Linked DNA regions of Homo sapiens: region 1 is linked to region 2. Evidence: fine-mapped expression QTL. A gene starts in region 2. The other region holds a variant in brackets. All regions are shown on one strand. Distances are from middle to middle.

The links.
Region 1: its variant is fine-mapped to the expression of ENO3 in whole blood (TOPMed, PIP 0.93).

Annotation. Positions count from the first base shown.
Region 1 is chr17:4,914,636-4,931,209 of GRCh38, forward strand. No RefSeq gene overlaps it. Among named protein-coding and RNA genes, the nearest start is that of GP1BA, 9.4 kb to the right of the region's middle. The variant CCTCAGCCTCCCG/C (reference allele first, on the strand shown) is at 9,465.
Region 2 is chr17:4,946,529-4,957,677 of GRCh38, forward strand. ENO3 (enolase 3) reads left to right here and starts at 4,591. Exons shown (of 12, transcript NM_053013.4): 1 at 4,591-4,654; 2 at 5,300-5,386; 3 at 6,267-6,362; 4 at 6,523-6,581; 5 at 6,744-6,813; 6 at 7,184-7,317; 7 at 8,547-8,769; 8 at 8,879-9,076; 9 at 9,414-9,615; 10 at 10,045-10,153; 11 at 10,303-10,361; 12 at 10,450-10,601. The coding sequence starts at 5,302. The coding sequence ends at 10,519. It overlaps PFN1 (profilin 1), which reads right to left and starts at 2,002. Exons shown (of 3, transcript NM_005022.4): 1 at 1,735-2,002; 2 at 100-292. The coding sequence starts at 1,866. RefSeq lists silencers at 1,272-1,501, 1,532-1,601, 1,872-2,211, 2,342-2,591, 3,052-3,461 and 1 more and enhancers at 2,792-2,961, 5,123-5,857.

The DNA of each region.
Region 1 (16,574 bases), 29 kb before region 2:
GAGTAGCTGAGACTACAGGTCCACACTATCACACCCAGCTAATTTTTAAATTTCTTTGTAGAGCCGGGGTCTCACTGTGTTGCCCAGGCTGGTCTTAAACTCCTGGACTCAAGCAATCCTCCTACCTCAGCCTCCCAAAGTACTGGAATTACAGCCATGAGCCATCGCCCCTGGCTTTTAAATCACTTTTTATTTTTTGCATTTATTTATTTATTTATTTTTGAGATGGGGTCTTGCTCTGTCACCCAGGCTGGAGTGCAGTTGCACGATCTCAGCTCACTGCAATCTCTGCCTCCTGGGTTCAAGCAATTCTCCTGCTTCAGCCTCCGGAGTAGGTGAGACTACAGGCATGTGCCACTATGACCGGCTAATTTTTGCATTTTTAGTAGAGATGGGGTTTCACTATGTTGGCCAGGCTGGTCTCGAACTCCTGACCTCAGGTGATCCACCCACCTCGGCCTCCCAAAGTGCTAGATTACAGATGTAAGCCACCGTGCCAGGCCTAATTTTTGTATTTTTATTTATTTAGACAGAGTCTCGCTCCATCACCCAGGCTGGAGTGCAAGTGGCGAGATCTCTGCTCACTGCAACCCCTGCCTCCCAGGTTCAAGGGGTTCTTGTGCCTCAGCCTCCTGAGCATAGCTGGGATTACAGACATGCACCACCACACCAGGCTAATTTTTAAAAATATTTTTCAGTAGAGACAGGGTTTTGCTGTGTTACCCAGACTCGTCTTGAACTCCTGTCCTCAAGTGATCCACCCGCCTCCGCTTCCCAAAGTGCTGGGATTACAGGAGTGAGCCACTGCACCCAGCCTATTTTTGTTGTTGTTGCTTCTCGGAGAACAGAGCTAACCCATAGACAATGTGCTCAGAGTCAGCTAAATCACTTTTTTTTTAAAGGAAAGTTTTTCTGTCATCATGACAGGAATTAATTCCAGCAAGAATTATCAGTGGATAGCCAGGCACGGCGGCTCACATCTGTAATCCCAGCACTTTGGGAGGCCGAGGCAGGCGGATCACGAGGTCAGGAGTTCGAGACCAGCCTGGCCAACATGGTGAAACCCCGTCTCTACTAAAAATACAAAAATTAGCTGGATGTGGTGGCGCGTGCCTGTAATTCCAGCTACTCAGTAGGCTGAGGCAGGAGAACTGCTTGAACCGGGACCAGGGAGGCAGAGGTTGTGGTGAGCCACGATCAACGATCACGCCATTGCACTCCAGCCTAGGCAACAAGAGTGAAACTCTGTCTCAAAAAAAAAAAAAATTATCAGTGGATGCTGCAGGATATAGGCCAGAGATTGAGAAGGAACAAGATATTTACATAGTATCAAAGTATCTCTCCACGAAAGTGCTCCTTAGTTACAAAGTAAAAAAACAGAATCTCCACAGTGGAGAAACATGGCGGATGCCACCTTAACCAAAGGATCAAAGTTAACATCCCCATTAAGGGTGAAATTGATATAATGTGTTTCCTGATAGGACCCACCAAGAAAGATCGCTGGTGTAATATTCCTGCCAGAAAAACATAACCCAAATACAACCTTGTGGAAACATCTGACAAATTGAGGGAAACTCTACATAATTACTGGACTATAATTTTCAAAAATGTCAAATTTATGAAAAATAAAGACAGGTTAAGGAACTAAAGCAAATTAAAGTGATATGGCCCTGGATTGGATTCTGGACAGGAAAGAAAAAAAGCAAAAAACAACAACCGTCAAGGACATTTTAGGACAATTGGCTAAATGGGATTATGGACTGTAGATTGGATGTGAGTATTGTATCAATGTTATATTTCCTAAAATTAATAACTGCACTGTAGTATATAAGGAAATGTCTTTGTTTTAGGAAACACATACTGAAATATTTAGTGGTAAAGAAACATAATGTCTTCAGCTTGTTCTCAAATGGTTCCAGAAAAAAACACTCAAGAGGGAGAAAGACAATATGATCAAGCAAATGAGACAAAATGTTAACACATGGTGAATCTGGGAAGAGGGCATGCAGTTCTTTGTACTATTCTGGTATTTTTTTCTGTAAGTTTTAAATTATATAAAAATAAAATCTTAGCAAAAATGCTAATGTCTGGGACTCACATCGCCCCCCAGTTTCTTATTTTAATTTATTAATTCATTATTTTATTTTATTTTATTATTTATTTATTTTGAGGCAGTTGTCTTGCTCTGTCACCCAGACTGGACTGCAGTGGTGCAATCTCAGCTCACTGCAACCTCCGCCTCCCGGGCTCAAGTGATCCTCCCACCTCAGCCTCCCGAGTAGGTGGGACCACAGGCACCTGCTACCATACCTGGCTGATTTATTTTTGTTTTCATTTTTAGCAGAGATGAGGTCTTACTATGTTGCCCAGGCTGGTCTCAAGCCTCTGCAGTCAAGCAATCCTGTCTCAGCCCCCAAAGTGCTGGGATTACATCTATGAGCCACTGAGCCTGGCTATTATTTATAATGGGGGAAAAAAGTGGAAACAAGGCAAATGATCATAAACAGCAGAAAGGAAAACTGCCTTTTACTCATTAAATACAATAAAGCATTGCGAATGAATGAATTATAGCTGTGGGTACATCAATATGAATATGTCTTAGAAATATAATGTCTGGCCGGGTGCAGTGGCTCACACCTGTAATCCCAGCATTTCTAGAAGCTGAGGTGGGTGGATCACTTGAGGTTAGGAGTTTGAGACCAGCCTCGCCAACGTAGTGAAACCCCGTCTCTAGTAAAACACAAAAAAATTAGCTGGGCATGGTTGGGCGCGCCAGTTACTGGGGAGGCTGAGACAGGAGAATCGCTTGAACCCAAGAAGCTGAGGTTGCAGCGAGCCAAGATCACACCATTGCACTCCAGCCTAGGCAACTAATGTTAACTCAAAAGTGTTTAGGACACTGGGGAAAAAAATATCGTATTAAATGGTTGCTGCTCTTAGAAGTAGGCCCATCCTGCAGGTAGAGACCAAGTGGAATTGCCTCCTGGTGCCCTGTTCAGATTTGGTGTGGCCCTTCAGGCAAACAGGAAAGCCTGCCTGGAGAAGCCCCAGAGAGATGCCTGGGGTCTGGCTGCAAAGGAACCAAGGGTCTGGTGCTTTCCCATTTGCTAGTGAGAGGCAGGGTCTTGCTCATGATGTGGGAGGTCTGGAGCATAGGAAAAGGCCTTCGGGTGCTGAGCAGCTGAAAGGAGTGACAGATGTCATCCCAGAATCCCAGAAGACATGAGACTCACAAAGCAACAGTAAGCAAGGAAAGCAGCTAATGCATTGGTAAGTCTAAGAAAGCTCTAACTGATGTTTTAAAATGGAAGCAGTTGTGGGAGAATCAAGCCCAGGAGTTTAAGATCTGCCTGGATAACCTAGTGAGACCTCATCTCTACTAAAATTTTTTTTTTTTCTGAGATGGAGTCTCGCTCTTGTCACCCAGGCTAGAGTGCAATGGCACGATCTCGGCTCACTGCAACCTCCGCCTTCTGGGTTCAAGCGATTCTCCTGCCTCAGCCTCCCCAGTAGCTGGGATTACAGGCGCCTGCCACCACACCTGGCTAATTTTTGTATTTTTAGTAGAGATGGGGTTTCACCATGTTTGTCACGCTGGTCTCGAACTCCTGACCTCCCGTGATCTGCCTGCTTTAGCCTCCCAATGTGCTGGGATTACAGGCGTAAGCCACCCTGCCTGGCCTAAAAATTTTTAAATTAGCTGGATGTGGTGGTGGGCACCTCTAGTCCCAGATACTTAGGAAGCTGAGTTGGGAGGATTGCTTGATCCCAGGAGTTAGAGGTTGCAGTGAACTATGATCGCACCACTGCACTCCAGCCTGGGTGACAGAACGAGACCCTGTCTCAAAAAATAAATAAATAAGTAAACAAATACATAAAATACAATGGAAGTAGTAATCTATAATTTAAATTCTCGGTGATATCTCATGAAAGATGAAGGGGTAGGGATAGAAAACGAAACACATTCTAAGAACCTTGTCTTGTTTTGGGGGCAATCAATAGTTATTAATTCTAGATTTTGATAGAAAGTTACATTTAAATGTTATGTTAAAAATCAATGATTGCTAGCTGGGCATGGTGGCTTACACTTGTAATCCCAGCACTTTAAGAGGCCGAGGAGGGTGGATCACCTGAGGTCAGGAGTTCAGGGGCAGCTTGGCCAACATGGTGAAACCCTATCTCTACTAAAAATACAAAAATTACCCAGGCATGGTGGCACACACCTGTAGTCCCAGCTACTCGGGAGGCTGAGGCAGGAGAATCGCTTGAACCTGGGAGGAGGAGGTTGCAGTGAGCTGAGATTGCACCACTGCACACCAGCCTGGGCAAAGAGCGAGACTCTGTCTCAAAAATAAATAAATAAATAAATAAATAAATAAATAAAATAATTCTGCTACATGCTGTTTGCAAGAGACAACAAAAACAAGTTGGTAAAAAGCTGGAAAATTCCAGGCATGGTGGCTCATGCCTGTAATCCCAGCACTTTGGGAGGCCCAGGCAGGTGGATCACCTGAGGTTAGGAATTCGCGACCATCCTGGCCATCATGGTGAAACCCCATCTCTACTAAAAATACCAAAAAATTAGCCGGGCACCTGTAATCCCAGCTACTCAGGAGGCTGAAGCAGGAGAATCACCTGAACCCCGGGAGGCAGAGGTTGTGGTGAGCCGAGATCGTGCCATTGCACTCCAGCCTGGGTAACAAGAGTGAAACTCCGTCTCAAAAAAAAAAAAAAAAAAAAAAATCTGGAAAATAAGAGAATAAATTATGGCATAAAAATACTAATATAAAGAAAACAAATATAGCAATATTAATGCCAAACAAAAGAATTCAAAACAGAAAGCATTAAAAGGGACCAAGGGGGATATTTCATCTTTATAAAAGGTATAATATACCAAGAAGCTATCATGGTTGTAGCGGGCTGAATGATGGCCCCCCTCAAAAGATACATCCATATCCTAATCCCTGACATCTGTGAATGTTACCTTATTTGGAAAAAGGAACTTTGAGATGTAAATGAATTAAGGACCTGAGATAAGGAGATGATTCTAGATTATCCAAGAGGGCCCGAAAATCAATGACAAGTGTCCTTATAAGAGACAGGAGAGGAGAAGACACAGACACACAGAAGCGAAAGTGATATAAAGACACTAGCAGAGATTAGAATGATAAAGCTCCAAAAGCAAGGAAAGCGTTGGAATGCTGGCAGCTGCCAGACACTGGAAAAGGCAGGGGAGCATTCTCTCCTAGAGCCTCCGGGGGAAGTGTGGCCATGGGGACACCTCGATTTCAGACTTCTGGCCTCCAGAACTGTGAGAGGATACATTTTATTTTCGCAAGCCACTCGATTTGTGGTAATATGTTACAGCAGCCAGCAAGTTGACTAGCTAATAGTCATAGGCATTTGTCTATCTAAAAACATAGCTTTAAAATAAAGTAAAATTGTATGGAAATAAAGAATAAAGTGAACAATCCACAATTGGGGTGCTTGATTTTAACATACCTCGCCCAGAAATGGACAGATCAAGTACACAAAAAATAAGAAAAAGTATACAGGATTTGAGAGTATATATTATCTCAACAGGGAATACATATTATTTTAAAATGCACATAGAACATAAAGAGAATAACAAATTCCAGAGGCCGGGCTTGGTGGCTCGCTAATGTAATCCCAGCATTTTGAGAGGCCAAGGCAAGAGTGTTCCAGACCAGCCTGGGCAATATGGCGAAACCCCATTTCCACTAAAAATACAAAAATCAGCTTGGTGTGGTGGTATGTGCCTGCAGTCCCAGCTACTGGGCAGGCTGAGGTGGGAGGATTGCTCAAGCCTGGTAGGCGGAGGTTGTAGTGAGCCGTGATTGCACCACTGCACTCTAGCCTGGGTGACAGAGACAGATCCTGTCTCAAAAAAAAAAAAATTCCAGAAAGTGAAAATCATGGGTACTAGTCAGGGCACTCTACAAAAACAGAACCATAACCAGACATGGTAGCACGCGCCTGTAGTCCCAGCTACCCGGGTGGCTGAGGCAGGAGGATGGCTTGAGCCCAGGAGGTTGCAGTGAACCATGATCACGCCACTACACTCCACCCTGGGCAACAGAGTGAGACCCAATACAACCAATAGGATGTATACATACACACACAAACACACACAAACACACGACAAATATTTATTTTAAGGAATTGGCTGACATGATTCATGATTATGTGCGCTAGCAAGTCCAAAACCTTGACTAGGGAGTCAGCAAGCTAGAGACCAAGGGAACAGTTTACGTAATCCTGGGTCCAGAGGTAGTCAGTCTGGAGGCAGAATTCCTTCCTTCTCAAGGGAACCTCAGCCTTTCCTCCTAAGCCATTCAACTGGTTGGATGAGGCCCACCCACATTATGAAAGATAATCTGCTTTACTCCAAGCATACTGATTTAAAGGTTAATCACATCTGAAAATACCTTCACAGCAACATCTAGAATAGTGGGTTGTTTTTTCATTTTTCATTTTTGTTTTCTTTTCTTTTCTGTTTTTTGAGACAGACTCTTGCTCTGTTGCCCTGGCTGGAGAACAGTGGTGCAATCTCAGCTCACTGCAACCTCTACCTCCCAGGTTCAATCGATTCTCCTGCCTCAGCCTCCTGAATAGCTGAGATTACAGGAACCTGCCACCGTGTTTAGCTTTTGTGTTTTATGTATAATATCCAGGGTTTTGTTGTATTTAGCAGGTGGAATAGGTAAAAGAAAGTGTACTCCATCTTCCCATAAGCAGAAGTCTCTCAGATGGATTTTTTTTTAATATAAACTTTTTTTCTTTCTTTTTTTTTTTTAGAGGTGGGATCTTGCTCTGTTGCCCAGGCTGGTCTGGGATTCCTGGGCTCAAGCCGTCCTCCCACCATACCTGGCCTATTGTAAACTTTAAAATGTATTGCAGTTTACAATAAACATCCAAGGTATGATGTGATGGATAATTTTATGTGTCAACTTGGCCAGACTAATAGTAGTAGTCAGTTGTTTGGTCAAACACTAGTCTAGGCCAGTCGCAGTGGCTCACGCCTGTAATCCCAGCACTTGGGGAGGCAGGCGGATCACTTGAGGTCAGGAGTTCAAGACTAGCCTGGCCAACATGAGGAAACCCAATCTCTACCAAAAATACAAAAATTACCCAGGTGTAGTGGTGCACACCTGTAGTCCCAGCTACTTGGGAGGCTGAGGTGTTTGGATCACTTGAGCCCAGGAGGCGGAGGCTGCAGTGAGCTGTGATCACACCACTGCATTCCAACCTGGGTGAGAAAGCAAGACTCTGTCTCAAAAAAAAAAAAAAAAAAAAAAAACTACACGGAGCCAGGTGTGGTGGCTCACACTTGTAATCCCAGCACTTTGGGAAGCCGAGGCGGGTGGATCATTTGAGGTCAGGAGTTCAAAGACCAGCCTGGCCTACCCGGTGAAACCCTGTCTCTACTAAAAATTCAGGGCCGGTGCAGTGGCTCACTCCTGTAATCCCAGCACTTTGGGAGGCCGAGGCAGGCGGATCACCTGAAGTCGGGAGTTCGAGACCAGCCTGACCAACATGGAGAAACCCCGTCTCTACTAAAAATACAAAATTAGCCGGGTGTGGTGGCGCATGTCTGTAATCCCAGCTACTCAGGAGGCTGAGGCAGGAAAATTGCTTCAACCCGGGAGGCGGAGGTTGCAGTGAGCCGAGATTGTGCCATTGCACTCCAGTCTAAGCGACAGAGTGAGACTCTGTCTCAAAAAATAAATAAATAAAATAGAAAAACAAAACAAACAAACCCAACTCATTTCTTCCCTGAATTCTCCTCAAAAAAATAAATAATTTTTTTCTTTCTTTTCTTTTTTTTTTTTTTTTGAGACAGAGTTTCACTTTTGCCACCAAGGCTGGGGTGCAATGGCATGATCTCGGCTAACTGCACCCTCCACCTCCCTGGTTCAAGCAATTCTCCTGCCTCAGCCTCTGGAGTAGATGGGATTACAGGTGCCTGCCACCATGTCCGACTAATTTTTTTTTTTTTTTTTTTTGAGACAGGGAGACAGGGTCTGGCTCTGTCGTCCAGACTGGAGTGCAGTGACATGATCATGTTTCACTGCAGCCCTGGCCTCCTGGGCTAAAGCGATCCTCCTGCCTCAGTAGCTGAGACTACAAGAGTACACCACCAGGCTGGGTGCGGTGGCTCACGCCTGTAATCCCAGCACTTTGGGAGGCCGAGGTGGGCAGATCACGAGGTCAGGAAATCGAGACCATCCTGGCTAATATGGTGAAACCCCATCTCTACTAAAAACAAAACAAAAAAATTAGCTGGGCGTGGTGGCGGGCGCCTGTAGTCCCAGCTACTCGGGAGGCTGAGGCAGGAGAATGGCGTGAACCCAGGAGGTGGAGCTTGCAGTGAGCCAAGATCGCGCCATTGCACTCCAGCCTGGGCGACAGAGCAAGACTCCGTCTCAAAAAAAAAAAAAAAAAAAAAAGTACACCACCAAGTCCAGCTAATGTTTTCGTTTTTGTTTTTGGTAGAGATGAGGCCTCACTGTGTTACCCAGGCCAGTCTCAAACTCCTAAATTTAAGCAATCTTCGAGCTTTGGCCTCCCAAAGTGCAGGGATTACAAGCATGAGCCACCATCCCCAAGCTCTTTTCTGAAATGTTTATTTTAGTTTTGGTTCAGGGGGTACATGTACATATTTGTTAGATGAATATATTGCATCCTGGTGAGGACTGGGCTTCTAGTGTACCCATCACCCAAACAGTCAACACTGGACCCATTAGGTAATTTTTTTTTTTTTTTTTTTTGAGACGGAATCTTGCTCTATCGCCCAATCTGGAATGTAGTGGCCCGATTTCGGCTCACCAGAACCTCTGCCTCCTGGGTTCAAGCGATTCTCCTTCCTCAGCCTCCCGAGTAGCTGGGATTACAGGTGCCCACCACCAAGCCTGGCTAATTTTTGTATTTTTAGTAGAGACGGGGTTTCGCCATGTTGGCCCCGCTGGTCTCGAACTCCTGACCTCAGGTGATCCATCCGCTTCGGCCTCCTGGGATTACAGGCGTGAGCCACCGTGCCTGGCCCCATTAGGTAATTGTCCAATGCTCATTTCCCTCCCAAGCTCCCCTCTTTCAAAGCCCCTAATGTCTATTATTTCCATCTTTATGTCCATGTGTAACCATTGTTTAGTTCCCACTTATAGGTGAGAACATGTAGTGTTTGGTTTTCTGTTTCTGAGTTAGTTCACTTAGGATAATGGCCTCCAGCTCCATTCATGCTGCTGCAAAGGACATGATTTCATTATTTTTAGTGGCTGCATAGCATTTCATGGTGTGTGTTTGTGTGTGTATCACATTTTCTTTAATTAATTACTTTTTTTTTTTTTTGAGATGGAGTCTCACTCTGTCACCCGGGCTGCAGTGTAGTGGCACAATCTCAGCTCACTGCAACCTCCACCTCCTGGGTTCAAATGACTCTCCTG[CCTCAGCCTCCCG/C]AGTAGCTGGGATTACAGGCGCCTGCCACCACGCCCAGCTAATTTTTGTATTTTTAGTAGAGACAGGGTTTAACTATGTTGGCCAGGCTGGTCTCAAACTCCTGACCTCAAGTGATCTGCCCGCCTCGGCCTCCCAAAGTGCTGGGATTACAGGCGCAAGCCACCGTGCCTGGCCTAATTAATTAATTTTTAGAGACAGGGTTTCGCTCTGTCACCCAGGCTGGAGTGCAGTGGCATGATCATAGCTCACTGCAGCCTCCAGCACCTGGGCTCAAATGATCCTCCCACCCTGGCCCTGGCCTCCCAAAGTGCTGGGATTACAAGCTGGAGCCACCACATCTGACCTCACATTTTCTTTATCCAGTCAACTGTTGATGAACACATACCTTTTCTGATGATAGCTTCATCCGAAGGCCAGATCACATCATAATCACAGAATAATGCCAACAGCTGACAGCTCACCTGGAGTTACACATTTCCTCATCCACTTTCAGAGAAGGTTTGTATACCTTAACCATCAAACAAGAGTCTTGGGTTTCATCATGAAAGGACCAACTTACTTCCTATTTCTATCCCTGGGCCAATCACTATGACCATGAACACCCTAATCAGCTTATGTCAGGGTACTTGTTGGGTCCTTAAACTGTGTCAGAGAGGAGGCAGTCTATTAAGTGGCTTAGATCCACTCTCGCAGCTGAGAGTCAATGTCACCAAAAATTCTAGGGATGAGGTAGGAATAGTTTCTCAAAAGAAAAAAGAGTAAAAGTTGAATGGATTTTGGATACATCTCCAACTAATGTCTTCTGTACAAATTCTTTTTTTTTTTTTGTCTTAAGATGGAGTCTCATTGTGTCACCAGGCTGGAGTGCAATGGTGCAATCTTGGCTCACTGCAACCTCCGCCTCCCGGGTCCAAGTGATTCTCCTGCCTCAGCCTCCTGAGTAGCTGGGACTACAGGCGCCCGCCACCACTCCTGGCTAATTTTTTGTATTTTTAGTAGAGATAGGTTTCACCATGTTGGCCAGGATGCTCTCAATCTCTTGACCTCGTGATCCACCCACCTCGGCCTCCCAAAGTGCTGGGATTACAGGCATGAGCCACCACGCCCGGCATCTTCTATACAAATTCTTTTTTTTTTTTTTTTTTTTTTTTTTTTTTTGAGACGGAGTCTCGCTCTGTCGCCCAGGCGGGACTGCGGACTGCAGTGGCGCAATCTCGGCTCACTGCAAGCTCCGCTTCCCGGGTTCACGCCATTCTCCTGCCTCAGCCTCCCGAGTAGCTGGGACTACAGGCGCCCGCCACCGCGCCCGGCTAATTTTTTGTATTTTTAGTAGAGACGGGGTTTCACCTTGTTAGCCAGGATGGTCTCGATCTCCTGACCTCATGATCCACCCGCCTCGGCCTCCCAAAGTGCTGGGATTACAGGCGTGAGCCACCGCACCCGGCTACAAATTCTTTAGAAATGAACTATACTAGGGTGGGCGCATAGGCTCAGGCCTGTAATCCCAGCACTTTGGGAGGCTGAGGCAGGTGGATCACTTGAGTCCAGGAGTTCAAGACCAGCCTGTGCAACATGGCAAATTCCATCTCTACAAAAAAACAAAAACAAAAATTAACCAGACGTGGTGGCACATGCCTGCAGTCCCAGCTACTAGGCAGGCCAAGGTGGGAGAATCGCTTGAGCCTGGGAGGTGGAGGTTGCAGTGAGCCACAATCATGCCACTCCACTGCACTCCCGTCTGGGCTCTGGGTAACAGGATGAGACCCTATCTCAAAAAAAAAAAAAAAAAAAAAAAAAAAAAGAGAGAGCGAAAGAAAGAAAAAGAAAGGAAGGAAGGAAAAATAAATGAACTACACTAGAGAACTGGATTAGGGGCCAGGTGCGGTGGCTCCCACCTGTCATCCCAGCACTTTGGGAGGCCAAGGTGGGCAGATCACCTGAGGTCAGGAGTTCAAGACCAGCCTGGCCAACATGGTGAAACCCCGTCTCTACAAAAATACAAAAATTAGCTGGGCGTGGTGGCGTGTGCCTGTAATCCCAGCTACTCGGGAGGCTAAAGCAGGATAATCGCTTGAACCCGGGAGGCAGAGGTTGCAGTGAGCAGGAGGTTTCAGTGAGCCGAGATTGTGCCACTGCACTCCAGCCTGGGCGACAGAGTGAGACTGTCTCAACAACAACAAAAACAAGAACTGGATTAGGTTTCTTCAAATGCATGTAATAGAAATCTACTCTAGCTAACCTAATCCAACAGAAATTTTTTTGGAAAGAGATACAGGAGCTCACTGGACGCAAGAGAACACTGACAACACAGGATAGCTCAGGAATCAGCTAACTTTGGGGACCTTAGTAGCAGGAACTTCCCTACAGCTTTTCCTGAACACTTTGCTGAAATGAATGAAGACCAGTTCTGCATCCTCGTACCACCTTATTCACCACGTGAAATCCTAGGAGGAGTACACTTGTCCGTGATTAGGTCACACCCCTGGGCTAGGCTCAGGTAATAAGGCAACCGTCCAATGGGTTCACCTTGCCCGCTGCCTAGACAGAGCCGATTTATCATGATGGGGGAATTGCGATAGAGAAAGAGGAATTCACACAGAGCCGACTGTGTGGGAGGCCAGAGTTTTACTGTTACTCAAATCAGTCTCCCTGAGCATTCAGGGATTGGAATTTTTAAGAACAACTTGGTGGGTGGGGGAAAGCCAGTGAGCCGGGAGTGCTGATTGATCAGGTCAGAGATGAAAATATGGGAAGCTGAAGCTGTCCTCTTGTGCTGAGTCAGTTCCTGGGTGGGGGCCACAAGATCAGATGAGCCAGTTTATTGATCTGGGTGGCGCCAGCTGATCCATCAAGTGCAGGGTCGGCAAAACGTCTCAAGCACTGATCTTACGGGCAGTCCAGGGAGGGTCAGAATCCTGTAGCCTCCAGCTGCATGACTCCTAAACCGTAATTTCTTTCTTTTTTTTTTTTTTTTTTTTTGAGACAGTCTTGCTCGGTCGGCCAGGCTGGAGTGCAGTGGCGCGGTCTCGGCTCACTGAAACCTCCGCCTCCCGGGTTCACGCCATTTTCCTGCCTCAGCCTCCGGAGCAGCTGGGATTACAGGTGGGAGCCACCACACCCGGCTAATTTTTGTATCTTTAGTGGAGATGGGGTTTCACCACGTTGGTCAGGCTGGTCTCAAACTCCTGACCTCAGGTGACCTGCCCACCTCGGCCTCCCAAAGTGCTGGGATTACAGGCGTGAGCCACTGCGCCCGGACTCCTAAACCATAATTGGTAATCTCTTGGCTAGTTTGTTAGTACTACAAAGGCAGTCTAGTTCTCAGGCAAGAAGTAGGTTTGTTTTGGGAAAGGGCTATTACCGTCTTTGTTTTAAACTATAAACTCTAGGCCGGGTGTGATGGCTCACGCCTGTAACTATAAACAATAAACTAAGTTCCTCTCAAAGTTAGTTCAGCCTATGCTCAGGAAGGAACAAGCACAGCTTAAAGCTTAGAAGCAAGATGGAGTTGCTTAGGTTAGATCTCTTTCACTGTCTCAGTCATAATTTTGCAAAGGTGGCTTCAATAACAGGAAGAATATTAGGGAAGGAACTTATTTATTTATTTATTTTATTTTGAGACAGGGTCTCACCCTGTCACCCAGGCCGGAGTGCAGTGCTGCAATCATGGCTTTCTGCAGCCTCGACCTCCCGGGCTCAAACAGTCCTCCTACCTCAGCCTTTTGAGTGGCTGGGAGGTGGAGAGAGGAGGACTGCTTGAGCCCAGAAGTTCAAGACCAGCCTGGGTAACATAGTGAGACCCTGTCTCTACAAAAAATTTAAAACAATAGCTGGGCATAGTGGCACATGCCTGAGGTCCCAGCTACTCAGGAGACTGAGGTGGGAAGATCGCTTGAGCCTGGGAGGTTGAGGCTGCAGTGAGCCATGATGGCACCACTGTATTCCACCTGGGTGACAAAGTGAGACCCTGTCTCAAATCACACCAAACCAAGCACACAAAAAAACACAAAAACCTATCTCCGAAGTGGCACCACATCCAGATGGTTTTTTTTTTTTTTTTTTGAGACGGAGTCTTGCTCTGTCGCCCAGGCTGGAGTGCAGTGGCACGATCTCGGCTCACTGCAAGCTCTGCCTCCTGGGTTCATGCCATTCTCCTGCCTCAGCCTCCCAAGTAGCTGGGACTACAGGCGCCCGCCACCACGCCCAGCTAATTTTTTTGGTATTTTTTAGTAGAGATGGGGTTTCACCGTGTTAGCCAGGATGGTCTCGATCTCCTGACCTCATGATCCGCCCGCCTCAGCCTCCCAAAGTGCTGGGATTACAGGCGTGAGCCACCGTGCCCAGCCTCCAGATGGGTTTATAGGTGAACTCCACCAATCTATGTAGAACAGAAAATCCCTATCTATAACTGTTCCAGAGAATATAGTTTTCCAATTTATTTTACAAGGCTAGCATAAACTCTGATCATAAAACCAAACAAACAGAAAAACAGACAAAGATCCCCAAAAGAGATCTATAAGCCACTCCTATTTTCTAACTTAGAGGCAAAAGTCCTAAATAAAATATGAGCAGGCTGGACGCAGTGGCTCATGCCGGTAATCCCAGCACTTTGGGAGGTCGAAGCAGGCTGATCACCTGAGGTCGGAAGATCAAGACCAGCCTGATCAACATGGAGAAATCCAGTCTCCACTAAAAATACAAAATTAGTTGGGCGTGGTGGTGTATGCCTGTAATCCCAGCTACTTGGGAGGCTGAGGCAGGAGAATCACATGAACCCAGGAGGCGGAGGTCGCCATGAGCCGAGATCACTCCATTGAACTCCAGCCTGGGCAACAAGAGCGAAAAAAGAGATCAAGACCATCCTGGCCAACATGGTGAAATGCCCTCTCTACTAAAAATACGAAAATTAGCCCGGCGTGGTGGTGTGCACCTGTGATCCCAGCTGCTCGGGAGGCTGAGGCGGGAGGATCGCATGAGCAGGTTGCAGTGAGCGGAGATGGCGCCGCCGCGCTCCAGCCTGGGTGAGGGTCAAAAAGAAAAAAAAAAATCAACAGCCTCTGGGCTCGGGGTCCTTATTCAATTTCATGGCTTCTCTCCAGACAAACTCCCACCTCACTTTCTATACTACCTCGTCTTCCCCACATTTTCCAATACCTTTGCAGCGGGCAAATTATATAAATGGCAAATCTATGGATTAACTGCATCTGGCTTAAGTGTCTATCCCTTGTCCGGTCACCAGCTGGAAGCAGATAGGGGCAGGCTCAGGCGGCTGCATGGAGCTCCTACTGGGGAACAGTGCAGGGCCACATTCTCATCACAGAAGGGGCAGTGGACCAACAGGCAGGGCATGGTGTCTGACTTTCTGTAATAGACATTTAACCTGGTCTTCGGAAGTCAGAAAAGGCTTTCCAGAGGAAGGAATTCTGAGCTGGAACTTGCCAAATAAGTAAAAGTTAGGCAGAAGGGGATAAGGGTTGAAGAAAAAGTTCAGGCACAGGAGAGAATGATCAAGAGTAAGGGCAGAGTGGGAACAGATGGGGCTGGACAGGCAGGCAAAGGGGAGACCTTGCAGGACCCTGCAGGCCATGTTGGGAACTTTAGACTTTCTCCTGAGATCTATGAGGAGCCATTGGTGAATTTATTTATTTATTTAGAGACAGAATTTCGCTCTTTCGCCCAGGCTGGAGTGAGGGGGTGTGATCTCAGCTCACTGCAACCTATGCCCCCTGGGGCTCAAGCTGTTCTCCTGCCTCAGCCTCCCTAGTAGCTGGGATTACAGGTGCCGGCCACCACGTCTGGCTAATTTTTTGTATATTTAGTAGAGATGGGTTTTCACCATGTTGGCCAGGCTGGTCTCAAACCCCTGACCTCAGGTGATCCACCCGCCTCGGCCTCCCAAACTGCTAGGATTACAGGTGTGAGCCACTGTGCCTGGCCCATTGGTGGATTTCAAGCAGTGGAAGGATATGAGCAAATGTGCAGTTCTGAAAGACCACTCCAGTGGAGAATAAAGAGAAGAAAGGGAATTGGGAAGTTGGGAGACCAGCAAGGAGGCTGTTGCAGGGAAGCAGTAGCGAGAAGATGGTGCCCTGGGCAGGGCATGGTGGCTCACGCCTGTACTCCTAGCACTTTGGGAGGCCGAGGTGGGAGGATCGCTTGAGCCCAGGAGTTTGAGACCAGCCTAGGCAACAAACAAATGTTTTTCTGTCTCTAGAAAAAAATTTTTAAATCAGCCAGGTGTGGTGGTGCATGCCTGTAGTCCCAACTCCTTGGGAGGCTGAAGCAGGAGGATCCCTTGGGTCCAGGAGTTTGTCCTTGAGTGAGGCATGATTGCGCCACTGCACTCCAGCCTGGGAGACAGAGCAAAGGAGACCAGCCTGGACAACATGGTAAAACCCCGTCTCTACTAAAGATATGAAAAATTAGCCGGGCATGATGGCGGGTGCCTGTAATCCCAGCTACTCAGGAGGCTGAGGCAGGAGAATTGCTTGAACCCAGGAGGCAGAGGTGGCAGTGAGCCGAGATGGAGCCATTGCACTCCAGCCTGGGAGACAGGGCAAGACTCCATCTCAAAAAAAAAAAAAAAAAAAAAGAAGAAGAAGAAGAAAGGAGGAAGAGGAGGAAGAAGAAGAGGAGGAGGAGGATATGAACAAGAAACAACAACAACCTTGGACTAGGAATGCTGGCAGGATGGTGTGGATGGAGAGTAGATTTGAGAGAGACGGGAGATAAAATCACCAGGACTTGGTGATGGGGATGAAAGACGGGAGACGTTAGAGATGACTATTAGGGATTTTGTTTGTGTTGACTGAATGGTTAGGTAAATGAGTGGATGATGGTGCCACTCACCAGGCTGAGCAACACAGGAGGAGAAGCCATTTGGAGAGAGATGGTGAGTTCAGCTTTGAACATATTGTTTTGGTGTCTGTGGGACATCCAAGTAGAGATGTCCAGAAGGCAGCTGGACATATGTGCTTGTGTCTCAGGAGAAGGGTCTGGACTAGAGACATAGATTTGAGAGTCATTAGGTTGTAGGTGGTGGTTGAAGGCAAGGGAATGGATGAGGATAATCTCAGGTGGTTGCATAGCGTAAGAAA
Region 2 (11,149 bases):
CATGTTGGGGAATCACACAAAAAAGCACCCTCAAGATTACCAGAAGGCGGTACATTAGAGATCTTGGAGCTAAAGGAAGGGTAAGACTCAGGAACTCACTCTTGTCAGTCTTGGTGACAGTGACATTGAAGGTGGGGGCCCCACCGGTGCTCTTGGTACGAAGATCCATGCTAAATTCCCCATCCTGCAGCAGTGAGTCCCGGATCACCGAACATTTCTGGCCCCCAAGTGTCAGCCCATTCACGTAAAAACTTGACCGGTCTTTGCCAACCAGGACACCCACCTCAGCTGGCTGGAAGAGGAACCAAGCGCCCATCAAGTTAGTCAGTGCACCAAGATTCCCACCGTGTTCTCCAAAGACCCACCTGTCTTCCACTTCTGAGAACCACCCCGCCGTGGGGGCTAAGTATAAATTATATACTCAGTACACATCAATGAACTGTGAGAAACTCTGAGGACTGTGGGACGTTAGTGCAGAAAAAGATCATGATTCTGAAACTTAGAATATGGAACCAGGGAGGAAGGGATGACATACTCCTCTAGAGATTTAGATGTCAGTGTTAATGGGGAAAGTAAACCCAGGAAATAAAGGGAGTCAGTGAGGTAAGTGAGGAGCCTTTGGATGCTCAGAACTCTCCTTCAGGAAAAGCAGAAGCGGAGAGGGGAAGGGAGGGGGGCGGGCGAGGCAAGAGAAGCAACTTTGCCCTTATTTGGTCAAAGGTTCTGCAGGAGCTGTTAGGGCCCGGACGCCTGGGTCTCCAAGTAACCTAGAGTTTAGCTCCAGGTATCTCTGCTCTGAGATGAGGAAGCAGACCCCTGGGGGCTTTCCGGGAAAGTTGGAAAACTTTTGAAGGTGGACAGGGGCCAGACCCGGCAGGCCAGCTCTCGGGTCTAGGTACCCCGGGAACCTTTCCCCCCTCCCCCTTTCACCCCAAGCCCCCACATCCGGTCCCCTCCCGCCCGGAAACCCCCTTCCCCCCCCTTTTGAACTTCCGCTCCCCCTCCCCACTTCCGGGCAGTGTGGACAGGGAGATGGTGGTGGGAGCAGCGGTAGTAAACCAATATACTTTCGCTTATGCTGTCTCAGAACTTCTCACAAAGTTCCCCTGCTCCAGGCCCCGCCGGATGGCGGGAAGGGAGGGCGAGGGGACTTCCGGGATTGGCCTCGCAGGAATGTTGAATCCAACGTGCTGAGCTGGGGGGGCGTGTGGTGGCCTCGCCCTCTCTAACGGAGTTAGGAGGGGCCAGAAGCCCACAGAGGGTGGGCAAGGGACCAAGACCACGCGCCTGGGGCTCCCTTCCGCACCAGGAGAAACAATGGTAGAGGGACGCGGGCTGGCAGCCGGACGGGGAGCTGGGGGTCCAAGGATCCCCGGGTCCCCTCTCAATCCCAATCCCCAGTAAAAACTGAGGCGCGTCCCCGCCCCGCCCTGGGAGAGGCGGAAGTGGGCCGCCGCACCGGGCGCCGCGCCCCTCCCCGCCCTGTGCCCCGGATGTAACGCCCCGTCGCGGAAAGCGGGGTAGCGGGCGGGATGGGCGCCGCCGCCTGGGGCATAGGACCTACGGGCAACTGAGGGACCCACTCACGTGCAGCCGCCATTCGCGCCGCTTCCAGGGCAAGCACCCAGTCAGGGCCTCTCGCTGCGCGCCCTAGACCGCGCCCGCCCCCACCCAAGTCCCTCCCTCAGGGTCCAAACCGGAGCAGTGCCCCGGACCGCGCAGGCCTCGCAGTACCGTGATGTTGACGAACGTTTTCCCGGGGACGGCGGCCCAGACGGAGGGCGAGTCCTTGTAGCCCACGATGGCCGCGTCCTGACAGGTCCCGTCCGCCATGAGGTTGTCGATGTAGGCGTTCCACCCGGCCATGGCGCTGCTACTGGGGCTGCTCTCGGCGCTGCTGCTGGGGCCGCGGACTGGGCTCGAGCTGCCTCGGCTGGCGGGCGGGGGGAGGCGGAGAGCTCGGGGCACGCGCTGCCGTCCGGACCGCGGCTCCGCTCGCTGTGCAGCAGCCCTCGCACCGCCACTTCCTGCTCCTCCCCCCCCCCGCCCCGCTAGATTTTTATTTGCAAAGGACGGTAGGGGCGGGGCCTACTCCCCATTCCCTCCCTCCCCCACTCGCCAGCCCAGACACCGAACTTTGCAAATGCAATTTTAAAAATCCCTCCCCCTATTGCAAAATTTGCAGAGTTCGATGGAAAGCAATGCAGAAGGATGGGGGGTGGCGGGAGAGAGGTGAAGGGTAGGGTTTGCTCCAATTTGCACTGAATATAAACCAGACTTTGGTATCGGGGCAGGGAGTGAGCCAGAAGAAGGAAGGAAGGAGAAAGCAGGAGGAATTAGCAAGCTGCAAATTTAGCAAATTAAGGAGAGTTCGGGGAGCCCAGGGTTAAACGGGATGACTCCTCCTTCCCCCACCTCCGCCGAAGGGAAGGACCGGCGGGCGGCGGCGCGTGTGCCCGCGCCTGCGCCTGCGCCGGGGCCGGGAGTGCATGGGGCGGTCGGGGCCGGAGCCGGCTGCACGGGAGCGCGCCCGGCCCGACCCGTGTGGACCCTGCGGGAAAGGAAGGCGGGCTGGGGACGTGTCTCCCGCCTGGCGGAAGGGGCGGGGGCGAAGCCGTGCGCGCTGCCGCCTCACCACCCTTGATTTTACTTATTCAAGTAATAAGAAAGCAAAGAAGAGTTTGGCCAAATCCTCTAGTCGCTCTCATAGCTGAAGGCACCCACCGGGGCCACTTCTGTCCCCAGCGTCTTCTCGGGTCGTGCAGGTTGGGTTCACCAGGGCCCATTCTCAGTCTAGAGGATTGTCCCTTCTCTGGATCGGCTCTAGCCCAGGGCCTCACCCCACATCCCAGCCCCGCCCGCCCCAGGCAGGCAATGTCTGGATCACCGGCCGTGCCCCTTGGCCTGTGTCTGCAGAGGTCACAGAGCGCGGACACCCGCGGGGCTTAACAGGCGGGGCTATTTTTCGAGGCGGAAGAATACTCAAGTTGCAAGAGTGGCAACTTTTTCAAGAAGGGGAAAGTCCCACTTCGGGCCCTTTGGGTTTCTTCGCAGTCAGATGTGCGCTCACAGCCACCTGGGGAGGGCGGGACGGGCGGGACGGCCGTGCGGCGGCCGCGGTGAAACCGCCTCCTCCGACCCGCCGCCGAGGGCTGGGCGGCTTCCGGAGCCTGGGCTAGGGGCAAGGGGTCACCGAGCGCGGCCCGGGCGGAAAGGGGGTTGGTTTTCTCTCTCCTCCCGAGCGCGGCGCGCATCCCTGGCGTCCACGCCGAATCCCACAGTCCCCGACGCCCCTCGAGTCCGTGTTCCTCGACAGCCGCGCGGCTGAGTCACTGGCGGGCTCGGGCGGGGCCGCACCCGGGCACGTGGCGGCGCTCCCCGCCCGCCATCTCCTGACCCCTGGCCCACCGCACCCCTACCCCAGGGTGGAAAAATCCCGGGAGGAGCGGCCTGAGATGAGGGGGCGGGGCGAGAGGGGAGACTGGACGGGTGGCGGGGCAGGTGGCCTGGGGTGGGGGCTGGGAGGCCGCGCGGGCCGGCGGGGCGGGGAGCAGGGGTGGGGAGAGGGCGGCGGGGGTGAGTCACCGGGCGCGCGCTGCCCCGGCGCCGACGGGAAGGGCCTCCGAGTCGGGCCGAGGCGCCGTGTGTCCCCCGCCGGTCGGCTGGTATGGCTGCAGAGGAGCTCGGGGCAGACCCCGCACTGGCCCCAGAGCCGGCAAAGTGGAGATCTCTACCGAGGGCAGAGACCTACCTCCCCGCAGTGCTACAAGTGGGGCGCCGGAAGAGCCCCAGGCGTGCAGAAGCTCACAAAAGGCCACCCGTCCTCGGTCCATTCATTTTTGTTCACTGTTGATTCAGCCCCATTCATTGATGGGCTGGGGCCGTGCGCTGAGCGCCCACAGTCGATGGGGAAAGGGGCTCTGACCGACAGTCCCCACGCCGGGCGACAAGTGCTGTCCCAGCGTTATCAGTCGGGCGCCTTGCCAGCCGAAAGGGCCTGTCTAAATTCGTTTCCTGTCCCCTAACTCATCCCGGCGCTGGCTGGCCTGGAGAGGGTAGGATGGGGCGGCGCCGAGAATGGCCGTTATGAGGACCCTAAGAGGTGAGACCCTCTCGCCTTCTGGGGTGGGGGGTCCCGTCCTTTCCCCCACTGAGGACAGAGGCCCGCCCAGCGATCTGAGCATGTGTGGACGTCAATCTTGCAGCCCCTCTTCCAGGCCCCCTCCCCAGCCTTGCAGGGCTCAGGTTACCCCTGGCCTTTCCTAAAGGTCACTCATTCCTCTTGACGTTTGCAAAAGGGGAATGTAATCCTGGGGTGGGGGGAGACCCCTCATCTGTAGCCCCTCCCTTGCTCCTCCCAAAGGGTGGAATTAGAACAGGGACTGTTATTGGGAGACAGAAAGTGGGGGATAGTAGTTGACCTTTGGTAAGGGGGCAGGTGCCCAGGGCCAGAGGCTTCTGCTTCAGGCTGTAGTGGGCACTTGGCTGCCAGCCCAGTGTGAAGGGGGGAGGATGGAGAGAAAGAGAGGCGGGGCTGGCTGGGGACCGAGTGGCTCAGGGATAAATGCGCAGCCTGAGAGGGGGTGAGCTGACACTGTCCCAGCTGCCACCTAGACTCGGAGCTCCATCCAAACCTCCAGCGAAGACATCCCAGGTCGGGTGAATCTTCCAGCCCTGGGGGTGGAGGTAGTAAAGGGTGAGCATGGTATTGGCTTGGAGGAAGTGGGGGACATTTCTGCTTTTTTTCCTCCTGGGACTGGAGATGCTTGAAAAAGCTGGGGGAAGGGGCGGCTGGAGCAAGCAGATGGGACAAACTCTGGGAACACCGAAGGATCTAGGGAAAGGAGGCTGTGAGGAGGGCAGCAGGGATGGATAGAAAAGGGCAGCTAGAGCTGGAACCTGATAGGGAATTGGGGGCCCAAGGAGATTTCGGAGCAGGAAAATGAGAACCAGAAAGGATTTGAAGGCCACCAGCCATGGAGAACAGACTGCTTGACCAGAGGGGTGGAAGGAGAAGGCCTAAGTGGAGGCTTGGGGGAGGTGGGGGCTTGGTGAGCGGTGGCATCCCAGGAGCTATAGATAAGAGGCCCCTGGATTCTTAGGATGGGAGGGTGGAATAAGAGCTGTTCTGAGTGGGGGAGGGGGCTGCGCCTGCCTCTTTGGTCTGTGACCTTTTTGTAGGGTATTTTTAGCTCCAGCACCTGCCTTCTTGGAGTGGGGAAGAATCTTAAAGGGCAAGGGATTTCTGGTTCCTTAAGAGATCAACTGTCTACACTCACTCACACCTCCTGTCCTGCAGCCATGGCCATGCAGAAAATCTTTGCCCGGGAAATCTTGGACTCCAGGGGCAACCCCACGGTGGAGGTGGACCTGCACACGGCCAAGGGTAACACAAGGCCCATTGGATAGGCTCGCCTCCGAAGACCCCAACCCTTTGGCCTTTGCCCCCCAGTTCTGTGCCATATCCTCTCCTTTCTCTCGGGTTCCCTTTCCCAGACTTCTTCCCAAGCCCCCTTCTTCCAACGTGGAACCAGAGCTGGAAGCTAGGAGAAGCAGGAGTCTCTCTCTGCACTGCCTCCTGTCCCTGAGCTCAGAGAGGACACCTCAGCCCTTTGAGAGGTAGAGAGACTCCCTGTGAGGTCCTTTTTTTTGTTTTGTTTTGTTTTGAGATGGAGTCTCGCTCTGTGGCCCGGGCTGGAGTGCAGTGGTGCAATCTCAGCTCACTGCAACCTCTGCCTCCCGGGTTTAAGTGATTCTTGTGCCTCAGCCTCCCAAGTAGCTGGGATTACAGGCCTGTGCCATCACGCCCAGCTAATTTTTTTTTTTTTTTTTTGAGATGGAGTCTCACTCTGTCGCCCAGGCTGGAGTGCAGTGGCGCGATCTAGGCTCACTGCAAGCTCCGCCTCCCGGGTTCACGCCATTCTCCTGCCTCAGCCTCCCGAGTAGCTGGGACTACAGCTAATTTTTTGTATTTTTAGTAGAGATGGGGTTTCACGGTGTCAGCCAGGATTGTCTCGATCTCCTGATCTCGTGATCCGCCCGCCTTGGCCTCCCAAAGTGCTGGGATTACAGGCGTGAGCCACCGCGCCCGGCCTCAGCTAATTTTTGTATTTTTAGCAGAGACGGTTTCGCCATGTTAGCCAGGCTGGTCTTGAACTCCTGATCTCAAGTGATCCACCTGCCTAGGCCTCTCAAAGTGCTGGGATTACAGGCATGGGCCACCGCGCCCAGCCATCCCTGTGATCTTCCAATTCCTCCTGTCCCAGGCCGATTCCGAGCAGCTGTGCCCAGTGGGGCTTCCACGGGTATCTATGAGGCTCTGGAACTAAGAGACGGAGACAAAGGCCGCTACCTGGGGAAAGGTGAGGAGACACCAGCGCAGAAGGAGCCTGTGTGGGCGGCTTTAGGACATGGGTGCACAATGGGTAGAGGACTGGAACCCCCAAGGCTCTTGAGGAGCTGGGGTCCACAGAAAGGGGCCCAGTTGATTGAGCTCCAAAACTCATCCTCTGGCCTGTCTAGGAGTCCTGAAGGCTGTGGAGAACATCAACAATACTCTGGGCCCTGCTCTGCTGCAAAAGGCAAGTGGGGAAGCCCGCTCGCTGCAGCCTCCTCCCCATGCCCCTGCTCCCTCAGCCCAGACAGGCCTCTCCCGAAACATTTTCCCTTATCCTTCCCCTGCATGTGCCCTGACTTCTGAGAAATCTGACCTCTGCTCTCCCTTCTCAAACTCACCCTTCCAGAAACTAAGCGTTGTGGATCAAGAAAAAGTTGACAAATTTATGATTGAGCTAGATGGGACCGAGAATAAGTGTGAGTGAAGGGCTAGCGGTGGGGAAGGGATGAGGTGTGGGAGAGATGGCGAGAGGCCATGGGGTGAGGCCTGATGGGTTATTTCTGGGTCCCCCATTTTGGGTCACACCGCAGCTGGATGGATTTGTGTTCATTCCACAGGCATTTCCTATGCCTGCCTTCTGCCAGGCCTGGGCCGGGCTGTGGACACAGACATGCAGCTGACACATTCCCCCGGGGTGGGGGTTCCCAGGGCTACTCAGGCTGTTGGGGAGAGATCTGTTAACCAATTCTTCATGCTCAGTGGTTTGGAGCTCTGGCGTCTTCCTGGAGTAGCCACCCCAAACCCTGCAGAAGCTCTCATCCTTTCTTCCCGCTTGCCTCCTTCCAGCCAAGTTTGGGGCCAATGCCATCCTGGGCGTGTCCTTGGCCGTGTGTAAGGCGGGAGCAGCTGAGAAGGGGGTCCCCCTGTACCGCCACATCGCAGATCTCGCTGGGAACCCTGACCTCATACTCCCAGTGCCAGTGAGTGCAGCTACCCGCCCTTCCCAGATCTCGCCTGGACAGAGCCAACCCCGCCCAGCCAGGGTTGGCCCCCCTGGAAAATCCACCTTTCAGACCAGCTCCTAAGAAGCAGTTTCCTGAAATTGAATCTCTCCTGCTGTGGTCCCACCCCTCCCTCTCTTCCACAATCCAAACCTTCCCTGAAGGCTCTATGTGCTTCCTTCCCTGCCATATAACCCAGTTCCTTCCCATTCCAATCCTAGGCTCGATAACTCCAGCCTCGTTCCAACCCCACACCCTACACCCAAATCATATTGAGAGTTTCTTTGAGGCAAAGATCTTGGCATTTCTTTGTATCTTCTTGAGTCCTTCTTAAACCAGTGCCTTCTTGATGAATGGAAACTCTTTGAATTTAATCTCAATAATAATGTTACCATTTCTTGTTACTTACTAGGAGGATTGCATAAGAGCATGGTCTCTAGAGATAGATTGCTGGGTTTGAATCCTGGCTCTGCCTGTTATTAGTTGTATGATTTTAGGCAAGTTCTTTAACTGCTCTGTCTCAGTTTCCCCATCTGTAAAATGGGGGGTAATAACGATACCAATGAATAGAGGTGTTTTGAGAATGAAATGGGCTAATACATGTAAAGTACTTAGTGCGTGGCATGTAGTAAGTGCTATATAAAAGTGTTAGCTATTATATACTAGGCACATGCTAAGAACTTTACATTCAATTTCTCTAATTTTCAGCAAAAGATCCTACAGGGAAGTAGGTGCTATCCCCATTTTACAGAAATGAGGAAAGAGAGGCTGGGCACAGTGGCTCACGCCTGTAATCCCAGCACTTCGGGAGGCCGAGGCGGGCAGATCACAAGGTCAGGAGTTCGAGACCAGCCTGACCAACATGGTGAAACCCCGTCTCTACTAAAAATACAAAAATTAGCCAGGCATGGTGGCACCCACCTATAGTCCCAGCTACTAGGGAGGCTAAGGCAGGAGAATCACTTGAACCCGGGAGGCGGAGGTTGCGCCATTGCACTCCAGCCTGGTGACAAAGTGAGACTCCGTCTCAAAAAAAAAAAAAAAAAAAGAAAGAAATGAGGAAAGAGGCTCTTGAGCAAAACTACTCATCCTAGACCACTGAGCTAGTAAGTAGGGAAGCCAGGTTTCCACCCCAACACCCCCCGCCCCTGTCCCTTCTTGAGCTCTCATGCCCCGGCCCAGGTCCAGACACCCTCTCCCCATCTCAGGCCTTCAATGTGATCAACGGGGGCTCCCATGCTGGAAACAAGCTGGCCATGCAGGAGTTCATGATTCTGCCTGTGGGAGCCAGCTCCTTCAAGGAAGCCATGCGCATTGGCGCCGAGGTCTACCACCACCTCAAGGGGGTCATCAAGGCCAAGTATGGGAAGGATGCCACCAATGTGGGTGATGAAGGTGGCTTCGCACCCAACATCCTGGAGAACAATGAGGGTCAGTGCTGAGCACCCTGGGGGGCAGACCCCCTGGATCTCCACATGGGCAGGGGAGGCTGCAGACAAGGGGCACTGGAGTCTCAGGTCCTTTCTTGGTCCTCCCCCAGCCCTGGAGCTGCTGAAGACGGCCATCCAGGCGGCTGGTTACCCAGACAAGGTGGTGATCGGCATGGATGTGGCAGCATCTGAGTTCTATCGCAATGGGAAGTACGATCTTGACTTCAAGTCGCCTGATGATCCCGCACGGCACATCACTGGGGAGAAGCTCGGAGAGCTGTATAAGAGCTTTATCAAGAACTATCCTGGTGAGGCGTTCGGGTGTCCCAGTGTTCCTGCCCGAATCCCGTGCAGCTGCCTAATATACTGATTTCAGTGACCTGCTTTGCCATCGACTTGGATCCTTCCAATTCTTAGCCCCATTAAAATCCCCATTTAAGCTCTTCTGCCCTGTCACCCCTCCATGAGGCTCCTTCTGACCTCTAGCCGTGTCTCTGCCCTGTCTCTGCCTTGTCTCTGCCCTGTCTCTGCTCTGTCTCTGCCCTGTCTCTGCCCTGTCTCTGCCCTGTCTCTGCTCTGTCTCTGCCCTGTCTCTGCCCTGTCTCTGCTCTGTCTCTGCCCTGTCTCTGCTCCAAACCCCACCAGTGGTCTCCATCGAAGACCCCTTTGACCAGGATGACTGGGCCACTTGGACCTCCTTCCTCTCGGGGGTGAACATCCAGATTGTGGGGGATGACTTGACAGTCACCAACCCCAAGAGGATTGCCCAGGCCGTTGAGAAGAAGGCCTGCAACTGTCTGCTGCTGAAGGTCAACCAGATCGGCTCGGTGACCGAATCGATCCAGGCGTGAGTGCCTCCTGACCCTGAGGCTCACCATAGCCTGCCTCTGCCCCAGCTCTGCCCACTCCAGCTACAGTCTTACCCACCAACTCCAAGCTTACCTTTCCCCTGGCACCTGACTTACCCACACCTTGATCTCAAGACTTTGTTTGACTAATCCTTGGCCTGACTCCAAGAGCTTTGCCCCTGTGGCTCTGTCATGACCCCCCACCCCCAGCCCACACCATTCCTCTCTCAGATTCCGCTGTTCTCAGCAGCATCTCAAGAGCCCGAAATCAAGATAAGTCTTTTCCTCTCCTACTTCCCAAAGAACTTAGTCACTGCCCTCCCTGCAGAGTGCTTGCTACCCAAAACAGAAGGGAGAGGCCCCACCCAACCCCTGCTTTCCCACTGAGGAGGTTCTAGAAGGCCACATCAAATGTCCTCTCCACTCAGGTGCAAACTGGCTCAGTCTAATGGCTGGGGGGTGATGGTGAGCCACCGCTCTGGGGAGACTGAGGACACATTCATTGCTGACCTTGTGGTGGGGCTCTGCACAGGACAGGTACTTGTAGCTTCTCTCTACTGAGTGTCTCACCAAGTTTTCTTGGGGTCCCTGGCCTCCTGCCTTTGAGGTTAATGCTCCCTTGGGGCCAGGTCCAACCCCTCCTTTCCAGCCTCACCTAACCCTCCAAATTCTTCTTCCCTCATCAGATCAAGACTGGCGCCCCCTGCCGCTCGGAGCGTCTGGCCAAATACAACCAACTCATGAGGTACAGCGGGAACAGTGGGCCTGGGCATTGGGGTGCTGGAGGCTGTTAGGTTGGAAGTTCAGCAGCCCTAACCTTGCCTGCATTCTAGGATCGAGGAGGCTCTTGGGGACAAGGCAATCTTTGCTGGACGCAAGTTCCGTAACCCGAAGGCCAAGTGAGAAGCTGGAGGCTCCAGGACTCCACTGGACAGACCCAGGTCTTCCAGACCTGCTTCCTGAAATAAACACTGGTGCCAACCAAGACAGCTGTGTGCTTCTTTGTGGGAGCTAGGGGATGCTGGTTTCTGGGCTGAGCTGGGGAAAACAGGAGGTGGCGAGATGGGGGCGGGGAGGGGAGGCAAATAGATATGTAACCTGCTAGGACAAAGAGGAGGTGAGGGACTCACAGAGGAAGCTGGGTGGTTCTAGAACAACAGAGGTGTTCACATTTCCAAAGGAGGTAGGGGAAGCAGATGCTATATGGTAAAATGAAGCTGCAGAGTTGCCAATGGAGCCGGGCATGGTGGCGCTCGCCTGTAGTCCCAGATACCTGGGAGGCTGAGTTGAGAGGATCGCTTGAGCCCAGGAGGTTGAGGCTGCAGTACACTATGTTCGTACCACTGCACTCCAGCCTGGGCTGCAGAGCAAGACCCTGTCTCAAAGCAACAACAACAAAAAAAAACAAAAACAAACAAAAAAACTAAATAAAGAGTTTCAGAGGGAATAAGAAACCAGCTCCAGGAGAGGGGAGCAGGGTGGGGACTGGGGTCCTGCCACCACCATGAAGGGGAAGCTGGCTGTGAAGTAAAT